Regions from separate parts of the Homo sapiens genome. Here region 1 is linked to region 2. A link means that fine-mapping ties the variant in region 2 to the expression of a gene that starts in the linked region. Tissue or cell type: atrial appendage. Region 2 holds a variant in brackets; the other region holds the start of a gene. All regions are shown on one strand. Distances are from middle to middle.

The links. PIP is the estimated chance that this variant, and not a neighbour inherited with it, causes the effect.
Region 1: TLCD4 starts here. The variant in region 2 is fine-mapped to the expression of TLCD4 in atrial appendage (GTEx, PIP above 0.99).

The regions. Positions count from the first base shown.
Region 1 is chr1:95,116,158-95,118,843 of GRCh38, reverse strand. It overlaps TLCD4 (TLC domain containing 4), which reads right to left and starts at 1,489. Exons shown (of 7, transcript NM_152487.3): 1 at 1,227-1,489. It overlaps TLCD4-RWDD3 (TLCD4-RWDD3 readthrough), which reads right to left and starts at 921. Exons shown (of 8, transcript NM_001199691.1): 1 at 753-921. RefSeq lists silencers at 999-1,048, 1,129-1,408, 1,336-1,482.
Region 2 is chr1:95,157,191-95,159,876 of GRCh38, reverse strand. The region is part of intron 5 of TLCD4 (TLC domain containing 4); the gene reads right to left. The region is part of intron 5 of TLCD4-RWDD3 (TLCD4-RWDD3 readthrough); the gene reads right to left. Among named protein-coding and RNA genes, the nearest start is that of TLCD4-RWDD3, 41 kb to the right of the region's middle. The variant G/A (reference allele first, on the strand shown) is at 1,100.

The DNA.
Region 1 (2,686 bases), 41 kb after region 2:
TTTTCTAACACGGCGGGAATACACTTTTCTAATTTCGTTTCGCCCAATTTAAGGAAAAGATAAGCAAGGATAAAAATTCCTCATATATAGCACAATTAAAAGGGAGCTGGGATTCTCTAACTTATTACCTTAATCGGCTACACAAAGATGAAGCTACATTTCAATCGACACCATGCGCTGGCACGGGAGTAACTCACTTAAAACACCACAATCCAAGGTCAATTTTTCTCAACTCCATTTATGACTGCGTAAAGATTTTATTAAATCTTTTTTCCTATTTCACACATCAATTCCTAGGGTCCACACAAACTCTTCCATCTTCTCCAAACTGGTATTTGGATTAAACATTATCCAAGATCAGTCTTTAAAGTAAATTTCATAATTTCATATAAAAGTGTGCACCACATTAACACTCAAATGTGTGTACAATTAAAAATATACAGACCAGCAACAGCGACTCTTAAATGAATTTAGACTCAAAGTGTTTTCACAGAGGTTTTTCTGCCGTCTTGGAGGGGTAGGAAACTGCTGGCATTACGAATCCCATTTCATGGCTGGGTAAACCGAGGCACTTAGGGGTTACAGAGGTAAAGATGGAAATAGAAACCAATTTCTCCCTCCGACTCTACGCCTGGTCCCTTCCCACTAGACTTTTCAGCACTCAGTGGCTAAAAATGGGACCCACTTGAGAACTGCAAGGGTAAATAAGAGCTACTTGTTTCAGAAGGTGGCGGCGGGGGAGGGGGACTTACCCACTTGATGCGCCCGATTGTGTGTGGGCTCTAACAAGAAAGCTCTCCCTGGATGCCCAAAGGTTTGCACCCACCCGCTTTAAGCTCAGACCCGAGAGGCACCGCCAGGCAGACAGGGCAGCCGGAATCGTGCAGCCCGAGAAACGCGAGAGGAATGCGGGGCGCCCGGGCGGCGCGGGGGCCGCGGGCCCCGGGACACCATTTGCTCCCGGAGCGACGCCGTGGCCCGCCGGGCGGGGACGATGCTGAGCCTTCCGCACACACCTGCCGGAGCCCGCCCGGGAGCCCCGGGCCGCCTCCCGCGCGCCGGACGCCCACCCAGCCTCCAGGCGCAGGAGCTCTCGGCCGCGCTAGGCCAGGGGCGGGAAGCCGCGGCACCCCTCTCCGCGGGCTGCGCTTGGCGGCTGGCGCGGGGGAGCCGCGGGGCGAGGCAAGCCCGCCTTCCTCCCCAACCCCCCCTCCAAACGGCGTCACCTGTGCCGGGTCCCGGGGCGAGTCGCGCGCGGGCGGCGGCTGCGCCGAGCCGGGAGAGGGCGGCGGGTGTCTACAGGAGTCTGCTCATCCGGGCCGGCCCGAGGGCTGGCGCTGGCCAGTGCCGCCCGGTGAGATGCTCACGGGAGCCAGGGAAGCCGCGGGTTCCGGGCCGCTTGGAGGTGCAGTCGCGGAGGCTCCAGCTACCGCGGCGGCCGTCGCGCCCGCCCGGACTGCGGGCTCGGGTTACCGCAGAGCTGCTCCTTAAAGGGGCCGCGGCCGCTCGGGCTCCGGCTCCCGCTCCGGGCGGCTCCGACCCTGGCCAAAGTGGGCGGGGCCCCGAGGCGGGCCGCCGAGCAGACCTTCTTGCCCTGGAACTTGGGTCCCGGAAAGAGCCCAAAAACCCTAACACCCGAAGTCGCAGCGGAGAGATCCTGGAAGCTCACACCTTGCCAAGGGCAGAGGGTGCAATTCCCGGGTTTTCCAAAGCAAGTCACAAAACTTGCCAGCGGGGGAACTGTGTGAGCCCGCCCCCGCAGCGGTCAGTACCTGGGCTAGCCACGTAACAAAAAATCTTCTTAAATTATGAATTTACATTCTGCCTTAAATGCTCAAATACTGGGGACTTCATGGTTAGATCATCAGAAAAGAGATGAAAAGGCAACTGCTGGTTTTTCTTGCCACGTCTGACACGGCCACACTCGAGTCCCGCCAGTTCTTCTTTGGGGCTGCAGGTGCATACCAAACTGGTAGGGGGCGCGTGTAGAAGAAGCGTGTTCTCTCCAGCACCACCTCCAGAATTCCTGAAAAACACCCTCATGGGTGCACCAGCACTACACCTACACCCGGAACCCCTCTGTTGTCGGGGTGTGGAAGTTGGATTTGAATATTTGGTGCTGGCTGAGAATTCCAAGTTGCCTAGTAGATAAAGTTTGACATTAAATAGATGTTCTGACCTGTTATATACAGCCCCAAAAGCCTCCAAGTGATCTGCATCAACCAGAGATAATTGTCTGAAACAAAACAAAATAACAAAGAGGTATACTCATGCATTATAATTCGCAGAGAGCAATCACAAGGCCTTTTCTTGAAAAGAGGTAAGTTCTAAATAAATAATTTGTAAACACTATCATTGATAACAGGATATTTATTTCTAAGAAATGTCAATAGAGCTAACATATTTGATCTACTATATACATGCGCAGAAAGACACACATATCTGCCGCAGATTTAGACCAGAAAATATATACACAAAAGCTCATATAAGCTGTCCATGTTTATTTTCAAGAGAGGGCAATAGAATTTAAATCAGAACCTGGAATTCTGTCAGTTTATTAGAGTTGTGTGCCTTTAGCTAACTGAACCTCACTGAGGCTCAATTTCTTCATCTTTAAAATGGTAATAATAATTCATAGTGACTCTGAAGACCTGGACTGATGTGGAAAAGACAAAATCTATACCAC
Region 2 (2,686 bases):
CAAAACAGAGATGTTGACCAATGGAACAGAGCAGGGGCCTCAGTAATAATACCACACATCTACAACCATCTGATCTTTGAGAAACCTGACAAAAACAAGAAATGGGGAAAGGATTCCCTATTTAATAAATGGTGCTGGGAAAACTGGCTAGCCACATGTAGAAAGCTGAAACTGCATCCCTTCCTTACACCTTAAACAAAAATTAATTCAAGATGGATTAAAGACTTAAATGTTAGACCTAAAACCATAAAAACTCTAGAAGAAAACCTAGGCAATACCATTCAGGACATAGGCATGGGCAAAGACTTCATGACTAAAACACCAAAAGCAATGGCAACAAAAGCCAAAAGTGACAAATGCGATCTAATTAAACTAAAGAGCTTCTGCACAGCAAAAGAAACTCCATCAGTGAACATGCAACCTACAGAATGAGAGAAAATTTTTGCAATCTACCCATCTGACAAAGGGCTAATATCCAGAATCTACAAAGAACTTAAACAAATTTACAAGAAAAAATCAAACAACCCAATCAAAAAGTGGCCAAAGGATATGAACAGATACTTCTCAAAAGAAGACATCTATGCAGCCAACAGACACGTGAAAAAATGCTCATCATCACTGGCCATCAGAGAAATGCAAATCAAAACTACAATGAGATACCATCTCACACCAGTTAGAATGGCGATCATTAAAAAGTCAGGAAACAACAGGTGCTGGAGAGGATGTGGAGAAATAGGTACACTTTTACACCATTGGTGGGAGTGTAAACTAGTTCAACCATTGTGGAAGACAGTGTGGCAATTCCTCAAGGATCTAGAAGTAGAAATACCATTTGACCCAGCCATCCCATTACTGGGTCAAAACCCAAAGGATTATAATTCATGCTGCTATAAAGACACACGCACACGTATGTTTACTGTGGCACTATTCACAATAGCAAAGACTTGGAACCAACCCAAATGTCCGTCAATGATAGACTGGATTAAGAAAATGTGGCACATATACACCATGGAATACTATGCACCATAAAAAAGAATGAGTTCATGTCCTCTGTAGGGACATGGATGAAGCTGGAAACCATCATTCTGAGCAAACTATC[G/A]CAAGGACAGAAAACCAAACACTGCATGTTCTCACTCATAGGTGAGAAGTGACCGATAAGAACACTTGGACACAGGATGGGGAACAGCACACACCGGGGCCTGTCATGGGGTGGGGGGAGGGGGGACGGACAGCATTAGGAGATATACCTAATGTAAATGACGAGTTAATGGGTGCAGCACACCAACATGACACATGTATACATATGTAACAAACCTGCATGTTGTGCACATGTACCCTAGAACTTAAAGTATAATAAAAAATAAATAAATAAATAAATAAATGAAGTATCAAGAGGCCAGGGATGGTGAATCATGCCTGTAATCCTAGCACTTTGGGAGGCTGAGGCAGGAGGATCACTTGAGCCCAGCAGTTTGAGACCAGCCTGGGCAACATAGGCTGACCCCATCTCTATAGAAAATTTTTAAAAATTAGCCAGGTAAAGTGGCGAATGTCTCAGCTACTCAGGAGGCTGAGGCAGGCAGATCGCTTGGCCCTGGGAGGTCAAGGCTGCAGTGAGCCCTGACAGTGCCACTGCACTCCAGCCTGGGCAACAGAATGAGACTCTGTCTCAAAAAAAAAAAAAAAAAGAAAAAATTAAGTATCAAGGGGTGCTATAGGACCAGAAATAAGAATACTTAAAGTTTTAAAAGGAACTGAGTGACAACTAGCATTCCCTAACTACATTGGGAGGAAGAAGGGAAGGCAAATAGAGGTATGAACATTAAATTCTTGTCCACCACAGCAAGAAAATACTATCTAACATTATTACCCAACATTGACAAATCAAGATACGGATAGTGTCTGAACAGGGCCACATCAATTCCTTCCCTCCCTGTATGTGCAAAATGTTCCTCGTATCAAGAGGTGGTCTTATTTCCTACCTCTTAAATCTGAACTGCCCTTAGCAACTCACTTGATAAATAGAATATACTGGAATTACCTATGTAGTAAGTCTTCTGAAGCCAGGTCCTAAGAAGTCTTGCGGCTTCCTCCTGGGTCTCTTGGAACAATTACTCTTGAAATGTTGTTCAGAACACAATTATGAGGCTGTGAGAAGCCCAAGCTACACGGAAGGACCACATATAGATACTCTCCCACTGAACTCCTACCAATGAGCCTTTAGATAATTCCAGCCTCAACTGCCATTTAACAGCACCCACATGAGACGTCAAGCAAGACTGCCCAACTGGCTTGCTTTCTCCTTTCATTTTTTAAAAATATAATTAAGAACTTACGAGTCAATGGATTTCAATCAACCATAGTCATTATTCTAATTGATGATCAAAATGTCACATTTTAAGCCAACAGAAGAGCCTTCATATTGGATCTTGTGTCCTTCTGACACAGTCCCATTAGTCTTTGATAGGTTCCTTGCTTTCTGACCCAAGATTGCCAGAACCACTTCAATATGTAAAATGAAAATTTAAATTTTAGTTTTGATCACATTTTTGTAATATACATATTATATATTTATATGAGAAATGCTGTTTTTGACATATGCATAAACCCGTATGTATATAGGAAAAAAGTACATTCCTAAATGTAAATGTTAAGTAAGTAAATAATATAATTATATAGGTTGTGA